Homo sapiens: one gene and its partner. The protein of the gene in region 1 interacts with the protein of each later gene in a pairwise test. Each region holds a gene or a part of one and is shown on either strand. Other genes may lie near its edges.

What was found.
Region 2: the proteins of UBE2R2 (region 1) and RNF113B interact in a two-hybrid assay, tested with the Homo sapiens proteins (one large-scale study listed by BioGRID and IntAct).

What each region holds. Positions count from the first base shown.
Region 1 is NC_000009.12:33,896,967-33,900,786, forward strand, and holds part of UBE2R2 (ubiquitin-conjugating enzyme E2 R2), read left to right. Parts: intron 1-3,207; coding exon 3,208-3,305; intron 3,306-3,820. UniProt on the Homo sapiens protein: E2 ubiquitin-conjugating enzyme that accepts ubiquitin from an E1 ubiquitin-activating protein, and catalyzes its covalent attachment to other proteins by an E3 ubiquitin-protein ligase complex.
Region 2 is NC_000013.11:98,175,239-98,179,043, forward strand, and holds RNF113B (RING finger protein 113B), read right to left. Parts: upstream 2,032-3,805; 5' UTR 1,999-2,031; coding exon 1,044-1,998; intron 939-1,043; coding exon 925-938; 3' UTR 547-924; downstream 1-546.

The DNA of each region.
Region 1 (3,820 bases):
GTTTGTTTTTTTAATATATATTACGCTCTGAACCAAGTAGCATACTTCTGTGGCCTAATTTTTTTTTTTTTTTTTTTTTTTTTTTTTTGAGACGGAGTCTCGCTCTGTTGCCCAGGCTGGAGTGCAGTGGCGCGATCTCAGCTCACTGCAAGCTCCGCCTCCTGGGTTCACGCCATTCTCTTGCCTCAGCCTCCTGAGTAGCTGGGACTACAGGCGTCTGCCACCACGCCCGGCTAATTTTTTGTATTTTTAGTAGAGACGGGGTTTCACCATGTTAGCCAGGATGGTCTCAATCTCCTGACCTCGTGATCCGCTGGCCTCGGCCTCCCAAAGTGCTGGGATTCAGAAAAACTCTTTTTTTTTTTTGGAGACAAGAGTTTCGCTTTTGTTGCCCAGGCTGGAGTACAATGGTGTGATCTCGGCTCACCGCAACCTCCGCCTCCCGGGTTCAAGTGATTCTCCTGTCTCAGCCTCCCGAGTAGCTGGGATTACAGGTGCGTGCCACCACGCCCGGCTAATTTTTGTATTTTTAGTAGAGATGGGGTTTCATCATATTGGTCAGGCTGGTCTCGAACTCCTGACCTCAAGTGATCTGCCTGCCTCGGCCTCCCAAAGTGCTGGGATTACAGGCGTGAGCCACTGCACCTGGCCAGAAAAACTCATTTCTACATTTCCCATAGGTTGTTTAAATTGTTATTATTAAAGGAAAGCTCATCTCAAAGCTTCCTCAACAACAAAGCCTTTTATCTTCCACCCCACCTCCCACGCATTCACTGCCCAAATATACCAAGTTTCTCTTTTCTTTTTTCTTTTTTTTTTTTTTTTTGAGATGGAGTTTTGGTCTTGTTGCCCAAGCTGGAGTGCAATGGCACAATCTCGGTTCACCACAACCTCCACCTCCCAGGTTCAAGTGATTCTCCTGCCTCAGCCTCTCGAGTAGCTAGGATTACAGGCATGCACCACCACGCCTGGCTAATTTTGTATTTTTAGTAGAGATGGGTTTTCTCCATGTTAGTCAGGCTGGTCTCGAACTCCTGACCTCAGGTGATCTGCCCGCCTTGGCTTCCCAAAGTGCTGAGGTTACAGGCGTGAGCCACCACGCCCGGCTCTCTTCTTTTTGTTTTTTGTTTTTGTTTTGAGATGGAGTCTCGCTCTGCCGCCCAGGCTGGAGTGCAGTGGCGTGATCTCAGCTCACTGTAACCTCTGCCTCCCGGGTTCAAGGGATTCTCCTGCCTCAGCCTCCTGAGTAGCTGCGATTACAGGTGCCACCACGCCCAGTTAATTTTTGTATTTTTAGTAGAGATGGGGTTTCATCATACTGGCCAGGCTGGTCTTAAACTCTTGACCTTGTGCTCTGCCTGCCTCAGCCTCCCAAAGTGCTGGGATTACAGATGTGAGCCACCATGCCTGGCCTCTCTCTTCTTTTATCTGTAGTAACTTTTTACATGCCTTATGGTATCTAACCATAAGGCAGTGTGTTAGAATATAATATTTTGTATTAATTTTATTTTAAAAATATTTTATATTGATAATGGTTACATATATATTCATATAGTTTCTATGTGTCTAAATTTGGGTTGTATATGTAAGATTTTTGCACTTTATATAGTTATACCTCCAGTTTTTTAAAAATATAAATCTTAAGTCGTGTGTGGTAGCACACCCTAGAGTCCCAGCTATGGGACTACTGAGGTGTGAGGATCACTTGAGGCCAGGAGTTAGTGGCTGCAGTGCACCATGGTTGTCTTATGCATAATCACTGCACTACAGCCTAGGTAACATAGTGAGACTCCCATCTCTAAAGACAGAAAGAAGTTAAATAAATAAATAAATCTTACCTTCCATGTTAGGCTAAGTCCAAGAGATAAGTCACTGTATTTTACCTAACTTTATCTTTTCTATTGAATTGTGTTCTGTATTGCACATGGTGGGCAATCCATATGTGTATGAATTAACCTAAATGTACTTGTGGATTAAGTTGTGTTAAGTTTATGAAGCAAAATATAATAGCCATAGTGGGAAGTCATTCTAACCATACCTTGAGGATGTTAACATTTGCTGCGAGGCATATTTTTGGTTTATATAAGTCATGGTTATTGACATAGCATCTATCTGAGTAGATATTAAGCAAGGTTAGATATTTTTTCTTCCTTTTTATGTACTCTAGGTACACAGATATATCTGAAAACAAAGGGATATATATTTGGCTGCTTCTAAGACAATTGAGTCTTGATTTATTATGTTTGTCTTTTTTTTTTTAAGATGGAGTCTCATTGTGTTGCCCAGGCCGGAGCACTATCTTGGCTCACTGCAACCTCCGCCTCCCGGGTTCAAGCGATTCTCCTGCCTCAGCCTCCTGAGTAGCTGGGATTACAGGCGCGTGCCACCACGCCCGGCTAATTTTTGTCTTTTGTTTTTGTTTTTTTGAGACGGAGTCTCCCTCTGTTGCCCAGGATGGAGTGCATTGGCGCGATCTTGGCTCCCTGCAACCCCCACCTCCCAGGTTCAAGCGATTCTCCTGCCCCAGCCTCCTGAGTAGCTGGGATTACAGGGGAGTGCTACCACGCCCGGCTAATTTTTGTATTTTTAGTAGAGACGGGGTTTCACCATGTTGTTCAGGCTGGTCTCGAACTCCTGACCTTGTGATCTGCCCACCTTGGTCTCCCAAAGTGCTGGGATTACAGGCGTGAGCCACCGCGCCCAGCCAATTTTTGTATTTTTGGTAGAGATGGGGTTTCGCCATGCTGGTCTCAAACTCCTGACCTCAGGTGGTCCACCCGCCTTGGCCTCCCAAGTGCTAGGATTACAGGCGTGAGACACCGCGCCCAGCCCCAGTCAATTTTTTATCAGGATTGTACTATAGGAATAGTAAGTCTTCTCACTAGAAAATATACCTTGGAGATTGGTCGAAATAAATATTATATTTTAATGTTCCTAAGTAAACATAGGGATCGTTTGTTTCATCAGGATTGTTCTATAGGAATAGTAAGTCTTCTCACTAGAAAATATACCTTGGAGATTGGTCAAAATAAATACTTTTAAAATGCTTAATTATTATTTATCTTTGATGTTGAACATAAAAAGCAGAATTGTTTTCTCCTTTGATGAAGAAACAGTTTCTAGGAATAAAGGAAACTTTAGAACCGATGTCCCTTTTTGTACATCACTTTTTGAGTATTTACTGAATGTAATGTTTGTGTCTTGTAGAATGGAGATGTATGCATTTCGATTCTTCATCCGCCTGTAGATGACCCACAGAGTGGAGAACTGCCTTCTGAAAGGTGGAATCCTACTCAGAATGTGAGGTAAGGAGGAATCTGGTTTTGGAGTTATTCTTAATCTCCTTATTGTCTTTGCTCCTAGTAAAATAAAATTATGTATTGTCTTTTAACATGTAAAAAATCATCTTTCTTATATTCAGTTTCTTTGTCTTTAGCTAGAGCTTTAAGAAATATGTATGCGTCATTTTGAAGAGCTGTATTTACTAAACAATAATGTATATGATTCTCATTTCCCTATGTTCACTTAGGAATAGATTTTCAAGCCTGAATCCCTACTCTTAACTTATCCTAGTTCTACTCTGGTTCTTTATTACCACCTAACATTAGTGTCATTCATTGGTTGCAGTTAATAAACAATGTTAATTCATTATAAGTAACTGAAGTCCATACGCTTTCACATTTCCTTTGTTTTTACCTGTCGTTGTTTTGCTCCAAAATATTTCATACATATAAATATATATCTATATATGTACGTGTATACATATATGTATTTAAATTTTTTGTAGAGATGGGGTCTCACTAAGTTGCCCAGCTGGTCT
Region 2 (3,805 bases), on another chromosome or scaffold:
GTAAGGAACTCATCAGCTGTGAGGAACTCAGCGTGGATCTGTTGGTGTTTGTCTTGGGAGAGGAATACATTGCCATTTTAAGGGAGAGGATGTTAACATCAGCCAAACAAAATCAAATCCAAACTTCAGCGTGGATATTCTTCTGTCAACTCCTCCCCTCCTTGGTTCTTAACTGATATCCTTTATTTGCTGTTTTGGTAACTCTTGAACCCCATCCTCTCCACTCCCTCCCGGTCTTGGTTCCATCATTTCTTCCTTTTCTGATATCTCTTTTTAGCTTTTTTGAAAAAAAAAATTAATTATAGTACAAAACATAAAATGTACCCTTAACCATTTTTAAGTGTTCACTCATATTAGGTATATATATATTGATGTGTAACAGAGCTTTATAACTTTTTCATTTAGCAAAACTCAAGCTCTGTACCCATTAAACAACAGCTCCCCACTCCCGCTCTTCCTAACCCCTGACAACCACCATTCGACTTTTTATGTAATTTTGACAACTCTAGATACCTTATATTAGTGAAAAATCATACAGCGTATTGGTCATTTTGTGACTAGTTTATTTCACTTAGCAGTGTCGTCTTCAAGGTTCATTCTAGTTGTAGCATGTGATCCTTAAAAGGATCAGTTTAAATCTTTAAAAGGATTTCCTTCCCGTTAAGGCTTAATAGCATTCCATTGTGTGTGTGTATCGCATTTTGTTTGTCCATTCATCCATCCATGGACACTTGGGTTGTTTACACCTCTTGGCTTTTGCAAATAATTCTGCAGTGAACATGGGAGTGCACATACCTCTTTGAGATCCGGATTTCAATTCTTTTGGTTACATACTCAGGCATGGGATTGCAGGAAGACTGTCATCTCTCTCATCTTACTCAACAGGCTGCTTCTCCCCAGTGTACATACAGACTTGAGTCTTTCTTATCTCTTTTTTCCTAAAAGAACAAAAAAATTTATTTAAATGTGAGAATTATGGGAAACCTAAGCCATGGGAATTGGACACTCATGGGGGTCTTCTGTGAAATGGGACTTGCCCCCACCTTCTGCAGCCTGAAGCTTTTGCAGTTTCGCCATCAGTTCTTTGGCGGGGTTAAAGATGCCGCCGGTTGGCTGGTCACAGATGTAGCAGCGCGGGGTGGCCCGGAAGTGCTCCAGCGCGCAGCTCTCGCAGAAATAATGCCTGCACTTGGTGACGACTGGGTTTTGGAAGGCCTGGCGACATATGAAACACCTGAATGGTATTTCCTCTTCCTCGCTTCCCACTTCATGGTTTTCGTCCTCGCAGATACAGTAGCGACCCTCTTCAAGCTCCCGTTCAATCTCCCACCCGAGCTTGTAATCGGAACGGTCGTGGAGGAATTTGCAGCTGTCCCCGAAGCCACAGAAGCCAGTCTCCTTGTAGTCCTTGCAGATGTCAGGCTGGTAATCCCAGCGCACAGTGGCGCGCAGATGCCCTGGCGCACGTATGGGGCCCTTCCTCGCCATCCCCGAGGAGGAGTTGCCCATGGACGTGTCCTTGGGCTTCAGGTACCTCAGGTAGCTGTGGATTCCCCGGTAGATGTGGTCGTGCTCCCGACCCCGCAGTGCCTCCTGGACCCGCTGGCTGCACTTGAGGATGGTCGGCGTATGGTGCTCCTTCTCGGTGTCCTGCTCGAAGTCAGCGGTGGCCCCCATGTCCTCTGGCCCCACAGGCTTCGCCGAGCGGGTGGACCTGTACACCACGTCGAGGCTCTCAGGCGCCGCCTCCTCGCCCCTCCTGTCGCCGTGAGCCGCCTTCTGCCAGCTGTGGAGGCCCCGGGGCCTCGGTGCCACCCGCGGGGGCTGAGCCACTGTGTCGCCCTCGTCCCCGCTGCTGCTGCTCTCTCCGTGCTCGGGGTCGCAGGCCGGGCGCTTTCTGAGGCCTGCAGCCCCTTTCCGTCCAGGCTTTTTGAAGAGGAAGGTGCATACCTGGTCTGCTTGGTCGGCCGTCCTTCCTGGAGAAGGTGGCGCTGCCATGTTTGAGTCTCAGGCTCCCAACGGCCGTGGCGTGCGTCACCCTTGCGTCGCCCTTGCGTCGCTGCACGTGGGGCGTGGGCCCTCCCAGTTCTAAAAAGCAAAAGCAAGTGAAAGAAAAGCTTCTGCTAGGCCAGGCGCGGTGACTCACTCTTGTAATCCCGGGACACTGGGAGGCCGAGGTGGGAGAATCACCCGAGGTCAGCAGTTTAAGACCAGCCTGGCCAACATAGCGAAACTCCATCCTTACTAAAAATACAAAAATTACCTGGGTGTGGTGGCGTGCGCCTGAAGTCCCAGCTACTAGGGAGGCTGAGGCAGAAGAATCGCTTGAACCCAGGAGGCAGAGGTTGTAGTGAGCCGAGATCACGCCACTGTACTCTAGCCTGGGTGACAGAGCGAGACCCTGTCTCAAATTAAAAAAAAAAAAACCAAAAAAAAAGGCTTCTCCCGCCCTTCCCTCCCTTGACCTGCCTCCTGGCCCTCAGATGGATTCCTTGAGAGAGTCATCTTCACTTGCTCCTCAGCTCCCTCAGTGCACACTCATTTTTCAACAGATTCCTAAAAGGCCACGGGTGGAATCATTCCAGGCCATAGCGAACCGGTGGTGCTCATCCTAAAACACAGGCGCTTGAAATGCGTATTTAAAAGCAACACACGCGCAGTGCAGAAAACAAAAACAGATACAAGCAAAAAGTAAGACGCCTATAATCCCTCCCCTCAAAGATAACCACTGTCAACACTTTTGTGTCTATTCTTTTAATATAGCCTTTATTAAAAGACTGTCATATCACACTGCACCTGTGGGTGTGTAGCTGGCTTTCATTTTGAAATAAAAGTAACACATGTAAACATTTAAAAAAATATTATCAAGCACTTATTGTAATGGAAATTGGCTGTCCCCTGCCTGGCCCCTCCACACGCCAATTCCTGGTACCTAAGATAATCATTTTTAATTTTTTTTTTTTTTTTTTTTTTTTGAGAAAGAGTCTCGCTCTGTCGCCCAGGCTGGAGTGCAGTTACATGATCCCGGCTCACTGCAACCTCTGCCTCCCGGGTTCAAGCAATTCTCCTGCCTCAGCCTCCTGAGTAGCTGGGATTACAGGTGTGTGCCACCACACCCAGCTAACTTCTGTGTTTTTAGTAGCGACAGGGTTTCACCATGTTGGCCAGGCTGGTGTGGAACTCCTGACCTCAGGTGATCCACCCACCTTGGCCTCCTAAAATGTTGGTATTACAGGCGTGAGCCACTGCACCCCGCCTTCAAATATTTTTAACCCTTTTTTTTCTTGAGTTTATCTTCAAGTTGTGAAATAATTCATTTATATAATGTAAATGGATTCTAGTTCTTATTTAGCCAGTGCATGTCATAAAGTGTTACATGCAATTTCTTTTTCTAATTTAGGTTCTATCTCTTTACTTACTAGAATGGAAGATGAGATTCAGCTCACTTGTAGTGCCCCCAAAACACTGGCTGCTGTGGGATGAGGGAGAAGTTGTGTGGGTCTCTCTTCCTAGACACCAAGGCATCCTCAGCTGTTGGAAATGTGATGAATAAGCTTACAGTGTAAAGAACAATTCATCATTTGTCAGTTTTCTCTTAGGATAGTAATTCTAGATTTTTCTTCAACTGTTATCATCCCATCTTTCATGTTGGAAGCTTTTCTAAAATACTTGGTTATCTCCAGCTGTTTATACTTCAGAGTGAGGTGCCTAAAAGCTGGCTGGAATCCATCGGTATTGTTGGGCTTGTACACTGGACTGTCCTTTGTGTGATTCAGTTGGAACCCATCTTTTTTCTTGGAGACCC